3 linked regions of the Homo sapiens genome follow. The protein of the gene in region 1 purifies or fractionates together with the protein of each later gene. This does not show direct contact. Each region holds a gene or a part of one and is shown in the gene's direction. Other genes may lie near its edges.

The links.
Region 2: the proteins of ALDH7A1 (region 1) and EPS8 purify together in Homo sapiens (affinity purification with western blotting; 2 studies listed by BioGRID and IntAct, with this or other methods). This does not show direct contact.
Region 3: the proteins of ALDH7A1 (region 1) and ABAT fractionate together in Homo sapiens (co-fractionation; 2 studies listed by BioGRID). This does not show direct contact.

What each region holds. Positions count from the first base shown.
Region 1 is NC_000005.10:126,585,166-126,592,275, reverse strand, and holds part of ALDH7A1 (alpha-aminoadipic semialdehyde dehydrogenase isoform 1 precursor), read left to right. Parts: intron 1-7,110.
Region 2 is NC_000012.12:15,667,280-15,674,389, reverse strand, and holds part of EPS8 (epidermal growth factor receptor kinase substrate 8), read left to right. Parts: intron 1-3,466; coding exon 3,467-3,534; intron 3,535-4,564; coding exon 4,565-4,726; exon of another isoform or gene 4,727-4,730; intron 4,731-4,853; coding exon 4,854-5,003; intron 5,004-7,110. UniProt on the Homo sapiens protein: Signaling adapter that controls various cellular protrusions by regulating actin cytoskeleton dynamics and architecture. Depending on its association with other signal transducers, can regulate different processes.
Region 3 is NC_000016.10:8,670,378-8,677,616, forward strand, and holds the start of ABAT (4-aminobutyrate aminotransferase, mitochondrial isoform 1 precursor), read left to right. Parts: upstream 1-4,239; 5' UTR 4,240-4,334; intron 4,335-7,239. UniProt on the Homo sapiens protein: Catalyzes the conversion of gamma-aminobutyrate and L-beta-aminoisobutyrate to succinate semialdehyde and methylmalonate semialdehyde, respectively. Can also convert delta-aminovalerate and beta-alanine.

The sequences.
Region 1 (7,110 bases):
GTATCTCAGCAATAGGTCAGCATTCCTGGTTTAAAGAACAACAGCAGATCGCACCTGGTGGCTCATGCTTGTGATCCCACCACTTCAGGAGGCTGAGGCGGGTGGATCATCTGAGGTCAGGAGTTCGAGACCAGCCTGGCCAACATGGTGAAACCCTGTCTCTAGTAAAAATACAAAAATTAGCCGAATGTGGTGGCGCGTGTAATCCAGCCTACTCAGGAGGCTGAGGCAGGAGAATTGCTTGAGCTTGGGAGGCGGAGGCTGCAGTGAGCCAAGATAGCATCACTGCACTCCATCCAGCCTGGGCGACAGAGTGAGACTCCATCTCAAAAAAAAAAAAAAAAAAAAGAGCAGTGGCAGCATCCCTTTCTCAGGGCCAGAGGCTCATGTTCCTTGACTGTCTAATCAGGCTGTGAGGCAGAGTCAGCCTCCTTGGTCTCTGAGTCTCCACCATTGGTTAAATGAGCAAATGTGGGAACTGTGACTGGTGCTGGGCTGGCCACACTGACTTGTCACTAGGTGGGAGCTAGGCTCCTGAGAAGGGGAGAGTAAAGGCGAACTAGGATAGCCTGATTTCCCAACCTTTCCACTACCCCCATCCTCAGTGTGCTTTGTCTTGTAAAAAGAAAAGACTGGGGGTGCCTGTCTCCTGGGAGGGTTAAATGAGTTAATCATTTAAAGTGCTTACTGGAGAGCCTGGCACAGGAAAAGCCTCAATACATTTGAGTTAAACCCTGTGCTGTTGGGTGTGGGACTGCTGAGGGACTACTGAGCTGCAGTATTTTCTCTGAGTGAGTGATTGCAAGGGGGGTTGGGTGGGGTTGGGGTGGATTGCAGAGTAGCAGCCTGTCCAACAGAGCCCTGGGTTGGATGAAGCTTTTTTTTTTTATCAGCCAAGATACGTCTTTGTGTAAAGCATGAAGCACATCTTTCCTCTACTTTAATTATGGATAGAAGTATGGCCTAGGGTTCCATTATACACAATCAAAAGTATCCTTGGGCAGAAAAATACCACTTCCACAAGTAAACAGTGTGCTAGGTAAAGTTCACCCTACCTGGATAGAGAATACTGTCCAAAACAGTGTCCTTCATTGTTTTAAAAACTTACTTGTATTTATTTCTGATCATAAAAGTAATAAATATTCTTTTTTTTTAGAAAAGATTGATGCTGTAAATAAGATAAACAAATTTAGTCCCCTTACCCCAACCTCTGCAATGCAAAATGTTCATTAGGTTTAGGTTTTGGTGCATTTCCTTCCAGTCTTTCATGTATTTATTTCATAGTTGTGATTATTGTACATCCATATATACATGGTGTGTATAAAATTTTGTGACCTGTGATGCTTGCATTCCATACCATCCTAAAGTTATTGCTTTTTTTTTTTTTTTTTAAGACAGGGTCTGGCTCTGTCACCCAGGCTGGAGTGCAGTGGCCCAATCTTGGCTCACTGTAACCTCTGCCTTCTGGGCCTGGGATCCTCCCATCTCAGCCTCCCAAGTGGCTGGGATTACACGTACACACCACCATGCCTGGCTAATTTTTTTGTATTTTTTGTAGAGGTGGGGTTTCACCATATTGCCCAGGGCGGTCTCGAACTCCTAAGTTCAAACGATCTGCCCTCTTTGGCCTCCCAAAGTGCTGGGATTACAGGCGTGAACCACCAGGCCCAGCTGCATAATTTTTTTTAAATTGTTGTTTTCCTATACATACATACTTTTTTCTTTTGAGACGGAGTCTCACTCTGTCACTCTGCAGTGGTGTGATCTCAGCTCACTGCAACCTCTGCCTTTCGGGTTCAAGTGATTCTCCTGCCTCAGTCTCCCAAGTAGCTGAAACTACAGGTGTGCGCCACCAGGCCTGGCTAATTTTTTTAAAAAATATATTCTCCAATTTAAAACTTTTAATTAAAAAGTAAACTTTAACATCAAAAATGCAAACTTGGAGAAGACAGAAAAGATCACACACAAGGCTGTCACTTCACACTTGGAAGGTTGCACAGCGGCCAGGCAGAGGGGCTCCTCACTTCCCAGACAGGGCAGCGGCCGGGCAGAGGCGCTCCTCACTTCCCAGACAGGGCGGTGGCCGGGCAGAGGCGCTCTTCACTTCCCAGACAGGGTGGCGGCCGGGCAGAGGCGCTCTTCACTTTCCAGACGGGGTGGCAGCTGGGCAGAGGTGCTCCTCACTTCCCAGACAGTGGCAGCTGGGCAGAGGCGCTCTTCACTTTCCAGACGGGGCGGCAGCTGGGCAGAGGCACTCCTCACTTCCCAGACAGTGGGCAGCTGGGCAGAGGCGCTCCTCACTTTCCAGATGGGGCAGCAGCTGGGCAGAGGCACTCCTCGCTTCCCAGACATTGGGCAGCTGGGCAGAGGTGCTCCTCACTTCCCAGACAGTGGGCAGCTGGGCAGAGGCGCTTCTTACTTCCCAGATGGGGCGGCAGCTGGGCAGAGGTCCTCCTCACTTCCCAGATGGTGGGCAGCCGAGCAGAGGCGCTCCTCACTTCCCAGTCAGTTGGGTGGCTGGGCAGAGGCACTCCTCACTTCCCAGATGGTGGGGCGGCCGGGCAGTGGCGCTCCTCACATCCCAGATGGGGCGGTGGCTGGGCAGGGCGCTCCTCACTTCCCAGACGGAGTGGCAGGCCTGGCTAATTTTTGTATTGTTAGTAGAGACAGGGTTTCACCATACTGGCCAGGTTGGTCTCGAACTCCTGAACTCGTGATCCACCCACCTTGGCCTCCCAAAGTGTTTGGATTACAGGCGTTAGCCACTTCACCTGGCCTTCCTATACATATATACTTAAAAAAAACAAAAACAAAAAAATAGACCAGGCACGATGGCTCACGCCTGTAATCCCAGCACTTTGGGAGGCCAAGTGGGCGGATCACCTGAGGTTGGGAGTTCGAGACCAGCCTGACCAACATGGAGAAACCCCGTTTCTACTAAAAATACAAAATTAGCCAGGCATGGTGGTGCGCGCCTGTAACCCCAGCTACTTGGGAGGCTGAGGCAGGAGAATCACTTGAACCTGGGAGGCCGACCTTGCAGTGAGCGGAGATTGAGCCATTGCACCCCAGCCTGGGCAACAAGAGCAAAACTCTGTCTCAAAGGAAAAAAGAAATTAATAGACTTTTATTTTTTACAGCAGTTTTAAATTTACAGAAAAACGAGTAGAAAGTACAGAATTCCCATTACTCCCTCATTCCTCTTCCCAAGTTTCCTTTTCTTCTTTTTTTTTTTTAAGACAGAGTCGCCCAGGCTAGTGTACAGTGGCATGCTCACAGCTCACGGCTCACTGCAGCTTTGACCTCCTGGGCTCAAGCAATCCTCCCACCTCAGCCTCCTTGGTAACTAGGACTACAGGCATGTTCCTCCACACCTGGCTAATTTTTGTATTTTTTGTAGAGATGAGGTTTTGCTCTGTTGCCTAGGCTGGTCTCAGACTCCTGGGCTCACGCAATTTACCCACCTCAACCTCCCAAAGTGCTGGGATTACAGGCATGAGCCACCATGCCTGTAATAGGCCATTTCCCCTGTTATTAACATTTTGCATTAGTATGTCATATTTTGTTACAACTGATGAGCCAATGTTCATGTGTTATTATAAACTAAAGTACACAATTTACATGAGGGTTCACTCTTTGCATATCCTGTTTTGAATGCTAGTGCAACTTAACATGTTGTCTTTTGACTAGAAACGTCTATTGTATGTGTCTATTTATCTAGGGTAAATACAAACATTTGAAAAAAAAAGAATTTATGTGAATTCAGGGTCTTGTCTTTTCCTGAACTGGTTTTTATTCTGAGACTGAGTCTTGCTCTTGCCTAGGCTGGAGTGCACTGGCATGATCTTGGCTCACTGCAACCTCTGCCTCCTAGACTCAAGTGATTCTCCTGCCTCATCTTCCTGAGTAGCCGGGACTACAGGCATGAGCCACCATGCCCGGCTAATGTTTTTTTTTTGTATTTTTTAGTAGAGAACAGGGTTTCACCATGTTGGCCAGGTTGGTCTTGAACTCCTGACCTCAAGTGATCTGCCCACCTCTGCCTCCCAAAGTACAGGCATGAGCCACCACACCTGGAATGAACTGGTTTTTAAATCTATCTTTGCCCTAGGGAGTGCCAGCTGACATTATGATCTTTCTTAAATATTGGGCTGTACTTTTTTTGTTGCTATTTTCACATTCAGGATCTCATTTGGCAGTCAACTCTTACCCACCATGCCAGCCTCTGCACCTAACATCCTTTCTCATACTTCTGGTGCTTTTTAGACCTCCCAACAAATAGAATGGGGGTGCTACGTGGGAACAGGTTGCTTTCCTGGGTAATAGTAGAGTCAGCTGGGGATCCTACTTGTTTGATTTTGAGTTAAGCAATTGAGTTCAAGGTTTAGGGAAGAGGCAGAGTTTTTCCTAATTGTGCTCTGGGGCTCCTCCCTGGGGCAGGGACTTAGAGAGGCTCGGTAAGAACAGACCAAAGCTTGACCCCCTTCTCGTCACAGAAGCTTTCCCATCTCGATCCTCCCTCACGTGAGGCTTCTCTGCTTGGCCCTCATCCATTTGGCTGACCTTGACTGTGTTAGGACAAACCACTGTTTCATGTAGTTCATTTGAGTTAATTCTAGAATTTTTCTTTTTCTTTTTTTTTTTGAGACAGAGTTTTGCTCTTGTTGCCCAGGCTGGAGTGCAATGGTGCCATCTCGGCTCACTGCAAGCCCTGCCTCCCCGGTTCAAGCGATTCTCCTACCTCAGCCTACCAAGTAGCTGGGATTACAGGTGCCCGCCACCAATTTTTTAAATATTTTTAGCAGAGATGGGGTTTCACCACGTTGGCCAGGCTGGTTTTGAATTCCTGACCGCAAGCCATCCACCCGCCTTGGCCTCCCAAAGTGCTAGGATTACAGGCATGAGCCACTGTGACTGGCCAATTCTAGAATTTTTCAAAGGGAACATTTTTCTTTAAGGAAAATGGAAACAAAGTGAAACATATGGAAAGGTAGTTTATAGAAATTGATTTCTTTCTAAGGAATAGACTTGCTGCTTTCTTCCATGAGCCAGTTTCAGCACAGAATGTAGCCCATTTCTGCCGTCTGCATCCCCATGTGTCCTCATTTTCCCTCCCATCTCTGGTGAGAAAGAGTAGGAGTCTCTCTGTTCTTGAAGACAGGGAACTGTTTTTTTTTTTCTTTCTTTTTTCTTTTTTTTGAGACAGTCTTACTCTGTCACCCAGGCTGGAGTGCAGTGGTGCGATCTCGGCACACTGCAACCTCTGCCTCCTGGGTTCAAGTGATTCTCCTGCCTCAATCTCCTGAGTAGCTGGGATTACAGGTACCAAGCGTGGCTAATTTTTGTATTTTTAGTAGAGACAGGGTCTCACCATGTTGGCCAAGCTGGTCTTGAACTCCTGATCTCAAATGATCCACCTGCCTCGGCCTCCCAAAGTGCTGGGAATACAGGCGTGGAACCACAGCCCCCGGCCATAATTTTCCAAAACCACTTTCTCTTGCTTTTCAGCCTTTGCATATGCTCTGTACCCCTCTAACCCCATGCTTTTCCTCCACTTTGCCTACCTCTTCACAACACCTGGCATGCTTTAGGTCTTAGCCCTAAACTTCTAAACTTGTAAAAAGCCTACTTCAGGTTGCTCCAGTTGTGAAATCTAGCTCCCCTTTCATGGCATTTGCCACATTAGATTGTAATTGCCTGTTTCTTGCCTTTATCACCCCCATGGACTGTCAGCTCTATAGAGGGCAAGAATTGTAACTGCCTCATTTGCAGTAGAATATCCAGGGATTAGCACAGTATCTGGCACATAGAACATATGCAATAATTATTTGTTGAAAGACTGACTGAATAAAATGTGTCCAGAATGGGAGGTAAAAGGCCATGTATACTGGCCATTCTGAGTTGAAATTAACCAACTTAACTAAGCTTATAAATGTGCTGACTAAATTCAATTGAAACATCATTAAACCCACACCATGTGCTAGGAAATGTATAGGTTATGTGCTGATTGATATAATGCTACAGGTTTTTGTTTCCTGTTTCCAAAAGTGTGCATATGTTGTGAAAATGACAGACATTGCAAACATATAAATTGTGGATGAAAATCTGTTATAATTTCATTCCCCACAAAAAACCATTGTGAACAGCTTGGTATATGTTGCTCCAAATTTAAGCAAAAGTTTACTTACCATAAGTGTTTTCTTGTTTTGTATTATTCTATTATAGCTTTTCAATGTTTTCCCATAAAAATCGACCTTATTTTATCACTGTTCCGTAATTAACCAATCATGTGCTGATGGACAGTTGGTTTCTTTTTTTCTTTACTAGAAACAGCACTGCAATGAATATCATTGTACCTATACTTTTGCATACTTATGTATATAAGCTCAGTTTCTGTAAGCAGAGCTGCTTAGTTAAAGGGTAGGAATGTCATGCCTGTAATCCCAGCACTTTGGGAGGCCGAGGCAGGCGGATTACCTGGGATCAGGAGTTCGAGACCAGCCTGACCAACATGGTGAAACCCCATCTCTGCTAAAAATACAGAAAATTAGCCGGGCGTGGTGGCAGGCGCCTGTAATGCCAGCTACTTGGGAGGCTGAGGCAGGAGAATCACTTGAACCCAGGAGGCAGAGGTTGCACTGAGCCGAGATCGCGCCACTGCACTCAAGCCTGGGCGTGACAGAGCGAGACCCCGTCTCAAAAAATAAATAGATAAAACAAAGGGTAGGAATGTTTTAAATGTTAATAGATTGCAAAGTGACCATCCAGAGAAGCTGTACTAAGAGACAGTGATACACTTGGGGAGAAGAGAGAGCAAGGAAGAACCTTGAGCTCACAGCCAAGCTCTGTGAGGCAAGTGTGAGCAGTGCTGTGATTAGGAGCAGTGGGAGTTAGGGGGAGGGTGTGATTGGCTTCTGCCTGGGGGAAGGTTTCATGGAGGGGAATGTTCCTTTTACCTGTACTTTATTATTTTTTTTGAGACAGAATTTCACTCTTGTCATCCAGGCCGGAGTGCAATGGCGGGATCTCAGCTCCCTGCAACCTCCCCCTCCGGGGTTCAAGTGATTCTCCTGCTTCAGCCTCCCAAGTAGCTGGGATTACAGGCACCTG
Region 2 (7,110 bases), on another chromosome or scaffold:
TTTGTAAGTATAAAGTAATATGAGTTCTAGCCCATTGTTTTATTTAGAGAGAGGAATACTCAGCAGCTGCTTTTATGTTACTTTTTTCTTGTTAATGGCCAAATCCTTACTCTCTAAGGAACATTTTTGTTTTTAGAGAAAGAGAAAAAAAATTCTAAATATTAGCTGTATCTTTGAATATTAGCCGTTTCAAATGTTATATTATGCATAAACAGCAATGCATGTGAAAGGGAATTAAGTGTAAATACCAACACCTGGATGCTTTTTATACTTGTAGTTCAACTAATTAACAAATTAAATGAAACCTAAATTTAGTATTTCTGATCTGGGAGTTGAATATCAATTTTTGCAATAGTGTATGATAAAATTGTATGTAAATATTTTTCATCGTTGGTTACTGAATTCATGTAATTCTGTCTGTTTGGAGTTGTACATTCTGGACCATGACATAAAAGCTAATAGACAAAATAGTGAAACACAACCAGTGGTTCTATAGCCAAGTAAGTTTCATCCTACCTCTAATTGATTCTGAGCGAGAAAGAGAGGCAGGGGCCAGAATAGGAGGGGAAATAGACTTAGTCTTATGTTAGGAGTTGAGCAGCTTGTACTACTAGAAACCTAAAACCCTACTGCCATGTTTATTCATGAATTTATTATTTAATATACCATTTGACGATATTTACATTCTTAATTTGGAAAGGAAAATGTTCTGCTTGAAGAGATAGTATATAGTAGATGAGTTGCACACTGTTTTATAAAGTTCATTCCAACATGCAGCCAAGGATGAGAACCACTGTTAGCAAAAGTGGTGAATTTCATTAGAGGATTCATCTTGAGTAGTGTTGAGAGATTTTAGTTAGGCTTTTTATACTGTTTTAAGGCTTTGGTGAGATTTCTAGCTTAGGAGCCTAATTACTATTTATACCAGTTCTTGTGAATACATGTGATTCTCATAAAAAAGAAATGTATTATAATTGCCTTTTAGGAAATGTCTTTCAAAATTGCCTATTAAAATGTTAATATTAACCTTTATGGATTGACTTAAAAATCACTGGAACTACTAGTTTATTTATAAGTCCATTTATGGCATTTATACATTTTTAGGATCTTTAAAAGGTAGTTTCTTATACAACTTATTTATTGTACAACATAGAGAAAGCAGCTTAGGAATTCCTAAAGTGGATTCTTAATTTGGAATATTAGAAATGACACCATATCTTCTAGGCACTCAGAGTGATCGGTTAATGTCATACTGTTTAAAATGCTATCAGATAGTTTTTCTTCTCATTTCTGTAAATTATGTTTCTGTGGGATTGGGAAACTATGGGTTAGGAAATCAAGAGGTCAGGGATAAATTCTTAATACTTCATAATGAGAATATCTAAATAGAAACACACAGTATTTCAGATCTTCAACTGTTGTATTTGCCAATAAATTACCTGAAAGACAAAGCATTTGAACATCCAGGAGCTGCCATATCATGACTGGGTGTCATGGCAACCACTGCCATTTCTTTTCTGTCCTAAGGTCAGATCAAAGCAAGCCGAGCCCTCCTGCTCTGAATCTATCGTGGACAGTTGTGTTAGAATATGGTGAACCAGTGACTCTGAAATAGTGATTATTTCTAGATGTGGTTTTGTGAAATATATTCCTGAATTATATATTGTATTACAAGAGTCATAACGGCTGTCACAGGGACAATTATCGATGTGTTAATATCTCACACTGATTAATCCTCAACAACTAATCAGAAAAATCACAGTCGCTCACTTTTTAAAAATATGTAGAATACAGTCATGTAAGTGAAGGTTTATGTTTTGTTATATTGGGAGAGAAAATTTTAGGTGAAACCAGATCTTTCTTTTTGATGACATTATTTTGGTAGGACCAGATGGATCATACTTCCTCAGGTCATCATCCAAACAAAAAAAGAAAGGTAGCACAGAGTGAATTTTGTAGTGCATCTGTTTTTATTAAGTAATTTTAATGCTGCAAAAGCAAAAATGGAGTGTATTGGAATATCAGAGTAATATTGATACAAGGACATGGAGATTTTAATCTAAATTTTAAAAGTAAATATAAATGAAATTCATATGTGTTGTAAAATGAAAATTTATTAAGTTTTCTTAAAATTCTGTGTTAATGTTCTGAGTCTGCATATGTATATATGCACTTTATATTTTTGTACTTGCTCAGCTTTTATGTTCAGCAGAACTTTCCAAACAACTTATCTATTATAGAATATCTATACTAACTAAAAGAAATAGGTTTACATTTACAAAAAAATAGGTTGTTGGGAAAGCTAAGGTATATCTATATGTCAGAATGTTAATGGCTTAAAGGCCTTTAGGTTTGACCTTGTTTAATCCTTTTATTTTACAGTAAGGGTGCTGAGGCCCAGGGTATTAAGTTTCTTGCCCAAATTTAGTTTCCTACTTAGTGACAGAGCCGAAGCTGGAACAATAAATCTTATAATTCCCTCTCAGAGTTATTTTTCATCATAGCATTCTGTTTAGAAGAAATAGGGCAACTCTGAATTTACAAATAAGCAAGTTGCTTGATTAGAAAAGTAACAAATAGTGCTCACTTTGGCAGCACATATACTAAAATTGGAATGATACAGAGATTAGCATGACCCCTGTGCAGAGATGGCACTCAAATTCATGAAGTGTTCCATATTTTAAAAAACAATACAAATTTTAAAAAGAGAGTAACAAATACCAAATATTGCCGACATACATTTTATATTTTAATGTTATTTTTTTGGTTTTGCAGCATTTCAGAAAAGAAAATTAAAGGTTTCTTTTTGCTTTTTAAGTAGTTTGGTGCAATAACTTTCTACCTGACTTTCTTGTTTTTCCTATCAGCTTATATTTATAATTCTAAGTATCACATTTGTGTGTTTTGTAGATGTGTGAAAACTGTTAATATTTAATGGCAAGCCATGTGATTGAATCATGTTTTAAATCTCCTCTAACACTATCCCAATTTGGATATTGCAAAAGGAGATGTTCCTTGTAATGCCTATTATTTTAATAATGTAGTCTAACTCATATAATACAGTATCTATGACAATATTTGCAATTACATTTTGATATCAGTGCAGTAACAGATGAAATTTATAAGCCAGTTGTAATTGACTTGTCAAACAGTAGGTCCCTGACTGATAAATAAAACCTTTAGATGAAATAACTTTTTTTCTTATAATATTTATACTCTTGTTAACCTTTGGAATTCTAAAAATGGATAGTGGATCAAATTGTTCTTGCCTATTATTTAGACTTTCTTGTGGTTTTTAGATTTACTGCGAATAATGAGTGTTTTCAGATACACCACACAATGGCAACTTGTCAGCTACTGTATTTATATGTGAGATAGACTAGTTTTAGAGATAGCCACATGATACCAACATATGAACTTCAGTCTATTAGGGGACAAATCATGGCTTTTTCAATTTCTCTTTCAGAACAAAGGAAGAATTATGCACGGGACAGTGTCAGCAGTGTGTCAGATATATCTCAATACCGTGTTGAAGTAAGATGCTTTGGTGTTTGCTAGTATTTAGAGTGACCCTTGAGGAACATAAAAATTGGAAGTTAAATCAGAATTCTGTTTTATTTCATTCTTATGATGTATTTTAAGTTGCATTGACCTTTTTGTTTAGATTTTTTAAAACAGATATTACATATAAAGTATCTTGTTAGTCTGTGGTCTATTTTCATAAAGAATGATTTAAAATCATAACTACTATCCATTTATCCTTGCCAGTCTTATTTCACTTATAATAGAATAATGGCTTTTACTTTGTACTATAGAATCTTCTTGAAATTAAGCCTTTGCTAGTTTCAGTGAGCAATTTAGTTTTTAGTTTAACTAAAGTTATTGCCAGTTCTAGTTAAATAATGGTTCTTTTTTAGTTTTTGCCCTCTTTTACGATATTTGCTCTTGATTGGAATTTATCTGGTTGACCTGTGCTTATAATAGAAAATATTTAAGCAGGGAAGTAATTTTTAAATTGCTCTTATTTTCAGTTTTCTACCTATGTCAAGCATGCTTAATCAAATTTAAACAGTTTTGTTTCAGTAAGTGGTTTTAGTGGATTGAATAGTTTGACAGTTCCTATAGACTAGAATTGTGCTGTTGCTACAATCAGTGTCCATAGTTTTGAAGCTCCCATACAGATAGCCTGCTGTTTAAATGCTGCTATGTTCAGCATTTAAATAACCATAATAGAGTGTCAAATAGGGGAAAGTTTATTTTAAGAGAATATTATTTAAGCTGTTAAGAATTTGTTTTAATGTCATGTTTATGTAGTTCAACATGGCTCCGTATGAAACAGATTTAGGTATCTTATGAGTCAAAACACCATTTCTTCTATTCAAAAAAAACCTTGGTTGGCTTTATTCTCTCATTAAAATAGTCATGAAGTTTTAAGAGTACTTTGTGTTTGTCGTTCTCTGCTAGCTGACCTCAGGTTATTTGATTTTCTTTTGGAAAATGTATACTAAGAGGTTGTATGTGTTTGTATGTGTTATAAATCTTTTTCCTTTTTGCCAATTGTAAGCACTTGACTACCTTTGTCCTGGATCGGAAAGATGCTATGATCACTGTTGATGATGGAATAAGGAAATTGAAATTGCTTGATGCCAAGGGCAAAGTGTGGACTCAAGATATGATTCTTCAAGTGGATGACAGAGCTGTGAGCCTGATTGATTTAGAATCAAAGGCAAGTGTGTAAAATTTATACTATTTTATTTTCAAGAAACTCCACAAATATTAATGTTTACAATCATTTCAGATTGTTTGAAAATGGATGGAAGTTTGACAAAATAAAATGTTCACTTTATTTATAGAATGAACTGGAGAATTTTCCTTTAAACACAATCCAGCACTGCCAAGCTGTGATGCATTCATGCAGCTATGATTCAGTTCTTGCACTGGTGTGCAAAGAGCCAACCCAGAACAAGCCAGATCTTCATCTCTTCCAGTGTGATGAGGTTAAGGTAAAAGAATGGTGAAATTTTTGTTTCTTCTTTAAGCAGATTGTCTGGGAGCTTTTGAATTACCTATTTTGATAATATATCTGCATATTAGTTACTAGATTTTTAGTTTCTGAGCATCTCGTAAGGAAAACAAATACCTTAGTATCTTCTCTAGGATTTCCATGGCAAGTAAATAAAGAAATTAGGGTGATGTTAATCAAATCAGTAGTTCACACTTGTAATCCCAGTGCTTTGGGAGGCCAAGGCTGTAAGATGGCTTGAGGCCAGGGGTTTGGGCCCAGCCTGGACAACATGGCAAGACCCAGTCTCTACTAAAAAGGTTTTAAAAATTAGCTAGATGTGGTTGTACACGCTTGTAGTCTCAGCTACTCAGTTGGCTAAGGGAGGAAGATCTCTTGAGCCAGGAGTTGGAGATTACAGTGAGCTATAATCACCCCTCTGCACTCCAGCCTGGGCAACAGATTGAGATTGTGTCTCTTAAAAATAAGATGCATTCTGTTTATTTTTTTAAAGTGTAGATAATATATTAAATTCACATCAAATGCCTTAAACTTATAATTAAAAATTGATTGTTCAGAAATCTTGCTTTGTGGACAGTAAATAATCATGTAATTTGAATTTATTCTGCACTAATGACATAGCATGGATTACTGCAATGAAGTACTTAGACATTTCCCACGATATTGATTTAAAGTTCACCATTTAATTATGTGACTTGATTCATTGCTCAGGATTTGTAATTCCCAGATGATATGTGAAAATAGTTGAGCCAGTAATAACAGGCTATATCCTGAAAGTTTCTATTTCAAAGTACAGTGTAATTTCAAATGATTATAATTTGTGATGCTTTATTGGACCTTAGAAGTTATCTTCAACCTTGAATGTGTTTATTTCCTCAGTTGTTTTCTTTAAAAGAGAAATCATTTTGTGTTAATTGGTACTTTGCCAAAGCAGTGATTTAACATTTTGATGATATATTATAAAATATCCATGTAATTTTATTTTATAAAGAAACTCTAGGAGATTAGCACAGTTACTTGATCTTTTCTGTGTTTTTTGACATTTAAAGATGATAGATAAAGTAAGATTGACTGTAAACTGTATTTTATAATTTTCTTCTAATTTCAATTTACGTCATGGATGACTTTCTAAAAACCTTCTTCTAAAAGAACTGGCATTTAGGTAATTTGTGTAAGTGATATTCATCAGATTTTTGTATAGTGCCTTTTGAAAGTCATAGTATATTATAATTTTTGTAAGGTTAGATATATTCAGTCAATAAATATTAAAGGGAATATTTTGCTTTAAAAATATAGTGAAATTTAATTCAAACATTTTTATAAACCAGAGGCCTAAGTTGAAAAACATTTCAAATTTGATGTTTGTATCTGTGTTCTAAAAAGCCCCCCCCGGGAGCTAAAAGTTACTATGCTGTGAAAAGTTTCTGGATTTTAGGTTTGGGAACAAATGGCTTGCTTTACTTGATATGGAATGGTAATGATAATGGATTCAAAATGTATTTACTGAATATAGTTTTGTCCTAACCCCAAAAGCTCACATACCACGAAGCACTGTATGCATTTACTCATTAGTTTCATACTCTGCATATGAGACATTTTTCGCTTGGCTGGTTAAAAATATAGAGGCAATGAAAAACGCAGTTTCTTTTATATGGCTCATTGTGCAATATTGCTTTTGATTTTTAAAGTTTCTTTATTATAGGACTTCATGCAATGCTCCTGCCCACCTTTGCAGTAAAATTTTTCTTAGAAATATAATAGCCCCAGTATAAGAAGTTGAAGATTCCTAGGCATCTTCAGTTTTCATTTTGGGTTTTTTTAAATAATTATTTTTAATTAAATATCTTTTCATCTTCAGTTTTAGTATCCTATGTAACAGAAAGCCTTTGACACGATATTTGTAATGTCTTATTGAAACTAAATGCTCTTAGGAAGTCACACTGGACTGGGATGCATTGGCCTCTCATTTAACTAGCAATGTGACCTTGGCCAGGCCCTTTTATACAAGTACTCCTCAGTTTTATTAATTAGAAGGAACTGATGAGATGCTCTTTTAAATATCCCATCATTTCTAAAGTTTTATGATT
Region 3 (7,239 bases), on another chromosome or scaffold:
CTTCTGGAAGGAGCTTATTGATAGGCACAGAGTATGGGTGAGTCTTCATCCCAGGCCTCAGCCAAACTCTGGGAAACACTCTGCATTCCCTGGCAGACAGCTGCAACCCCAAGCAGCTCCATAGGAAAACTGCAGAATGGCAGAAAATGCAAGGGAAGCCAATATGGAAAGGGCTTTTTCCACATGCTGACAGTTTTCTTCACAAGTATCACAATGAAGCTATTTGAGAATCAGCTTGCAAAGCACCTGGCTCTAAATAGCCTTCTCTCCCTAGTCCTTAAGTAGAGACAAAGCAGCTCCTTTTATCCTCTAGAAGTGCCCTTTCCTAGGGCCTGACCCACAAATGGGTGCTCAAAACCTAGTTGAATGAATGAATGAACAGATGAATGAAGATGGCTACACACACTTCTTATTTCCCTTGATTGCCTTAGACCAGGACACGGCAGATTTTTCGCAAAGGGCTGGAAGGTAAATATTGTTGTCTTTTCAGGTCACAGAGTCTCTGTCACAGCTACTCAGCTCTGCTGTTGTAGCTCACAGACAGCCATAGACAATGCATAAATAAATAGGCCTGGCTGTGTTCCCATAAAATTTTATTTATGCACAGTAAAATTTGAATTTTATGTAGTTTCTATGTGTCACATAACATTATTCTTCTTGTGAATTTTTTTAACCATTTAATATGTAAAACCAATCTTAGCTCATGGTCATAGGAAAACATGATGAACTACATTTGGTCTATGAGCTATAGTTTGTCAACCTTTGGCTTAGACTCTTTTTTAAAAAAAAATTATTTATAAATAGAGATGGGGTTTCGCCATGTTGGCCAGGCTGGTCTCGAACCCCTGGCCTCAAGTGATCTGCCCGCCTCAGCCTCCCAGAATACTGGGATTACAGGTGTGAGCCACCACTCCGGGCCCTTTGGTTTAGACTTTTCCTTTCTGTTTTTCATTTTAAATATTTTCTTCTTAGTACCAGAGTAATATATATTCATTACAGAATAATTAGAAATTAGTGACATTGTAAAGTTTATCCTCTATTAAAAATAAACCCAAGGGGATAAAAAGAAATTACTGACATGGACATGCAAATAAAGTAATATTAGAATAATCTATAATTTCAATACACAAAAATAACCATTCTCCTACTGAACACAGTTTTTCACTCAGCATTGCTAGCTAGCTATATCGGTGCCTTTTAATATGATAGCCACTAGCTACCTGTTACTGTTACACCTTAAATTAAAATTAGATACAGGCTGGGCGTGGTGGTTCACACCTGTAATCCCAGCACTTTGGGAGGCTGAGGCAGGCAGATCACTGGAGGCCAGGAGTTTGAGACCAGCCTGGCCAACATGACGAAACCCTGTCTCTACTAAAAATTAAAAAATTAAACAACGAGCCAGGCGTGGTGGAGCACGCTTGTAATCCCAACTACTCAGGAGGCTTAGGCAGGAGAACCGCTTGAACCTGGGAGGCAGAGGTTGCAGCGAGCTGAGATCACACCACTGCACTCCAGCCTGGGTGACAGAGCGAGACTCCGTCTCTAAAAAAATAAATAAATAGATACAATTAAAATACAGTTATTCGGTTAACTAGTCATTGCTTTTTCCAAAATTTTAAATTTATTTTTCCCTTTTCCTTTTTTTATTATTTCTTTCTTTCTTTTTTTTTTTTAAACATCTTGGATACCAAAATTAGTCATTTCAGGTGTTCAATACCTCCATGTGGCTAGTGGCTACCACACGGGACGGCACAGATATAGAGCATCATAGAAAGTTATATTACACAGCATTGATCTAGCTCTACCTGGTAGATTTAACAAAAAGTAAGATGTTTAACAAAAAGTAAGACAGTACCAAATATACTGTTTTTGCAAATAACTTAACATTTTGAGATTTGTTTTGTTTTGTTTTTGAGACAGGGTCTCACTCTGTCACCCAGCTGGAGTACAGTGGTGTAATCTTGGCCCACAGCAGCCTCAACCTCCCAGGCTCAAGGCTGCCTCAGTCTCCTGAGTAGCTGGGACTACATGCATGCGCCACATCGCCCGGATAATTTTTGTATTTTTTGTAGAGACAGGGTTTCACTATGTTACCCAGGCTGGTCTTGAACTCCTTGGCTCAAGCGATCCTCTTGCCTTGGCTTCCCAAAGTGCTGGAATTACAGGCGTGTCACCACACCCAGCCCCATTCAATATTTCATACCTATGTTTATTGTTCAATTTCATGCAACAATTTCCCTCTGAGTCCCTGCTGTTGTGCATTCAAGTTGTTCCCAGTTTTTCCCTGTGATAAACAAAATGGTAGTAAGCTACTTTATCATTAAATCTTTGTACCTTTAAATGTTTTCAGATAAGTTCATAGGGATTGGATTGCTAGATCAAAGGGTCAACTTACTTTTAAGATTTTTAAAATAGAAATACCCAATTTCCCTCCAGAAAGGCTGTGATCTTTCTACTGCCATCATCAATACATGAAACTCCTTGAAGTCTTTGCAAAGAATAGTAATTATAATAATAAAAACAAGGTCATTTTGGTAGGTAAACTCTTTCCCTCTTTTGGTTTTAACTTGCCTTTCCTTTTCAAAGTGTCATCTCCCATGTTTATTGGCCGTTGTATTTCTTTGGGCAGGTCAAGGGTAGTAAAGGGGATTATGTTCATGGCTTTGGTTTTAAGAAAAAATTGCTAGATTTTCAGCACAGGCCTCATCAAGTTCCTCAAGCAAGGTGACAATCACCCAGGCTAGAGTGCAGTGGTGCCATCTCACCTCAGTGCAACCACTGCCTCTCCATTCAAGCGATTCTCATGTCTCAGCCTCCCAGGTAGCTGGGATTACAGGCAGGTGCCACCATGCCAGGCTAATTTTTGTATTTTTAATAGAAAGGGGGTTTCCCCATGATGGCCAGGCTGGTCTCGAGCTCTGGGCATCAAGTGATCTGCCTGCCTCGGCCTCCCAAAGTGCTGGAATTACAGGCGTAAGCCACTGTGCCAGGCCTCAATTATTCTTATTTACTGCTCTGTGTGTGTGTGTGTGTGTGTGTGTGTGTGTGTGTGTGTGTGTTGGGGGGGAGGGTCCCCAGAGGTGACACTAGGAGGTGAATGATTTGTTTGGCAGCTTTCTATTTATCTATGTGTTTACTTTATCTTAATTCTTTAATTGCAAGGACTATAGCGCTTGTGTAATCAGAGATAGGGCAGCCTGGATTCCTGGACAGCAGGAGGAGAGACCTCAGGGTTCTACAAGACTCCACAGACCAAGTTATCAGTGATCAGGGTGAGTGGGGAGAACCAAGCTGAACTCTTTCTCTGCCTTTAAGGTCTGTACTCTCCATCCATCCATTCATTCATTATGAGGACTTGGTGATCGCCTGTTGTCTTGATGAGCAGTTCTTTGTGTCTTTGATTTTGTCACTGAAAGATTGCATCCTCTTTCCAAATACCTCTAGAAAGCTGTGGGGGGGCTATCCATCCGTCACACCTGAGTATTAATTATCTTCCACACAGCATTTTATACAACGGTAGAAAGGCACCTTCATCATATCTAGGGTCTCGTTTATACCCACGAAGGAGGTACAATCTCTGTTGTCCCAATTTCAGGAAATTGAGGATCAGGAGGCGCAGTGACCTGCTCCAGGTCATGCAGAAGGAACCACCTCTGACTCCCAGCGCCCTGTTTGTCTTCCGGAGCGCTGGGGCCAGGCGGAGGAAAGTAGCTGGGAGCAAGAAGGGCTGGCAGGGCCCTGAGCGCCGAGATGGGGAGTGAGGTGGGGAGGGCGGGATGCTCCTTCCCTTCTCCGCAAAGGAACCCCTTCTGATTCCGACTCTGGAGCTCCAGAGACCGGATCCGAGACGCGGGTGGAGGTGGAGTTACACTCGCCTGCAGCCCTGAGGGTGTAAATGGCCCATTAAGATCCAGGTTAAATCAACCTATGGAGCTGCCCCCCAGAGGGTCAGGGTCCCCACAACTTGACGGGGGTCCTCAGCCGTCTCCTCCCCAGTCCCAGGACTCCCTCCCAGCCCTCGCGGTCCCTCTGGTGGGTCCCGCCCCAGCCCCCGTCTCCCCCGCCCCCGGAGGCTGGACTCTGCCCCCGCCCCGCCTGCCACCTCCCTCCTGGGGGCGGTGGCCCGTGGCGGGCGCACCCATTGGCTGTGGCGAAAGCGAGGGCCGGGGCTGGCGGCGCTGATTGGCCGGGACGCTCGGCGGAGCCAGGGAGTCCGGCGAGTCGCTGGGGGAAGTCGAGCAGACACCCAGCGCTGCCGGAACTCGGGGCGCGCATCCCGCAAGTCGGAACCCGGCGGATCGGATCCCGCAGATCGGAGACGGGGCCTGGAGGTGAGCGCGAGGCGCCGGGTGGCTTGGGACGGGCCCTTCCGAGGGGAGCCGAGAGGAGGTCCTTCTGCCCTGCCCCCAGGAGCAAAACCTGGGCATCTTCTCCTGGAAACGGAGCCCTCATCTTCCCAAGACGCGGGGCCCTCCCCCGAAAAGACAGGGGCTCCCACCCCCCAGAGAGCAAAATACCTTCCTTTCTCCTTCAGAAATGGGCCCTTCCTCCTGGCTCCAGCTCTAGACAGAAGTCCTCTCCCTTTTACCGCTTGAAATAGAATGCGGCCCCAAAAAGTGGTCTCCAGGTCTCTAGAGCCCCCTCACCTCTTGGGAGACTGATGCCCCTTCCCCATCCTTAGAAAACTAAGTTTGGGTGTCTTCCTTCTCCCCTCTCTTTCGGAATAATGGGGGTCTTCTCAGCTTATAAATTACAGTGACCTCCCCCTCCATGACAAATGGAAGCTCTCCCCCCATCATAAGACAAGGAAATCCCGGAGCAGAGACTCTGCAAGTCACCCTCCCACCCCAGATACTGGGCTCTGGAGAGATAGATGATTCACCCTTAGCCCTGCCGGAGACCCCTCCCTACCCGTCAGAGAGGCAGGGTGGCCTCTGACACCACCACATTAAAGGCTTTTGGGGATTTCCCCTCTCCTCCCCAGTAAAGATGTAAAATGAGGGACCTTCATACTCAGGAGCAGGGCAAAGGTCTGGCCACCCCTCCAAGTCATCCACCTCCCTCCACTCCACCCAAGCCCTTTCACACAAACCCCATCCTAGTAACCCCCTGCACCATCCTCCCACCGCTCCCAATCCCATCCTTCTCCACCTCACCCCAACTCCACTCCCACACCTGGCTGCCCCACCTATTTCACATCCTCTCACCTTTCCTCACCCACCCTGGCCAAGGTAAGACTAGAGGGGGTTCAGCGAGATTTAGTAAGACTGGAGCTCTTAAAACTGGGATCTGGGGCCTAGAGGCCCTTCCAGGAGTCTTCAAACTCTGACAACAGAGATGGCCTCTGAGGCAGCAGGACCAGCAGAGACCACCCGCCACCTCTCCCCCGCTCCCTGCCCCAACACACGCACAAAGGCTGTGTTCAATGCATTCTCTCTTGCAGTCTGGGAGGACAGCTGGCCCTCTTCCAAGAGGGCCCGCATTTCCCCCCTAAAGTGTGCACCCCCGCAAGCGCCTGTGGACATTGCCTGGTGGAATTCCCTGGGCACTCAGCCAAGAGAAATGGGTGCTGCTGGGCCCATCCACTGGGGAGGAGACAGTGTTGGCTTTGCTGCTTTGATGAAGCTAGACTAAGGGACAGGATGTTGGTGACCTGGGGGTGGGGAGGGGGTGGGAAGAGCTCTTCTCTGGTGGGTCAGGTTGGGAGGCAGGAGAGAGGGAGGCAGTGAGTTGTGTCTTGCTCTTTGGAGCCTGTGTTGCGGCGTGGAGTCATAGAGAAATGTGTTTTCTCGAGGCCCAAAGAGGTTAGCCACGGGGAGAGGTAAATGGTCCAGTCTGGAGTCCTAAGACCTAAAAGGGCTTCTGCATTAAAGACGTGGCCCCTTCATTTGACAGTTAAACACACAGAGGCACAAAAGGGGAAGAGACTTGCTCAAGGTCACCCAGCCTGTGGGAGACAGCTGGCCCCAACCCCTCCAGGACCCTTAAGGTGCTAGGATCCCTGACACAAGCCCCAGTCCTCACATTTACAATGGGGACTTGGGGACTGCTGGGTCCCAAGTCCCCACTTGTCAGAGGAAGCGCCAAGGCTCTGCAAAGGTCATGAAGCCAGGAAGGGGCAGAGCTGGAACTCAATGCCATCCCCCAGCAGGCTGCCTCGTGGAATCCATTCCTGGGTGTCAGCGCATCCCTGCTTACCCCGTGCGATCTTTGTGTTGAGGCCATTGCCAAATCTAGGCTTGCCAAAATCCAAACTGACCCAGGATAGCTAATAAGATCAGTTGCAGCTAATGAGAATGAGATGCTGGAGTGGAGGCTACTGCAGGAACCTCACTTGCATAGCTGGGTTTGCTCCAAGAACTTTGGACAGGTCCTGAGGATGTCATATTCCTTCCCTCCAAGGTCCCCTCCCTCTTAGCCCCTGCCCACGCCCTCTGGCTTTGAGTTCCCTGCACATTGTCTCATCTCTGTTCAGAGGCCTGCGTCTTTTCTCCTGGGGCATTGCATGGGAAAAGAGCTGAAATTCTGGCAGATTCTCTAGGACCACCCAGCTGGGCAGCATGGTCTGAAGTAGAGGCTCTCTCTGTTTCTGCCCCCACCCAGTTCCCAGCTAAAGGATTGGTTGTTGTGCCCCAACTTTGCCAAGGCGAAGTTCAAAGCATGAGGAGGACCACGGTAGAGAGGCCGAGAGGTTGGTCCCTGGAGACCTCTTATCTGGGTCGAGAGCACAAATCTGCCACTTAGTGTCTGATCTTAACCTCTCTGTGACATATCCTTGGGGTAAAATGAGTTAATCCTCATAAAATGTTTAGCACACAGCAAAATGAGCAGAAACAATGATTACAAGTGCAAAGTCATAAAACCTCTAATCATGAAGTGGGGAGGTGCTTATGCCTTAAGGCAAAACTTGTAACCCTTGCCGTAGATAATCTGCCAGGGCCAAGGTGCCTGGGGACAAGGGGATGTCTTCCTAGAGAGACAGTGTAGTATGTGGAATGGACCACAGACCCTGAAGCCAGATGGAGTAGAGAGTTGGCCACTGGTAGTGGCTGTCTATGGAAACTTAGGCAAGTCATTCATGTCTCTGAACCTCAGTTCCTCGTCTTTGAATGAGGTTTGTTGGGGTTGGACATCAGAAAAGAGACAGGTCTAGATGAGGGGTTCTCATTTTGGGCACTGTTGACAGTTGGGTCAGAGGATTCTTTGTTGTGGGACTCCCCTGTGTATTGTAGGATA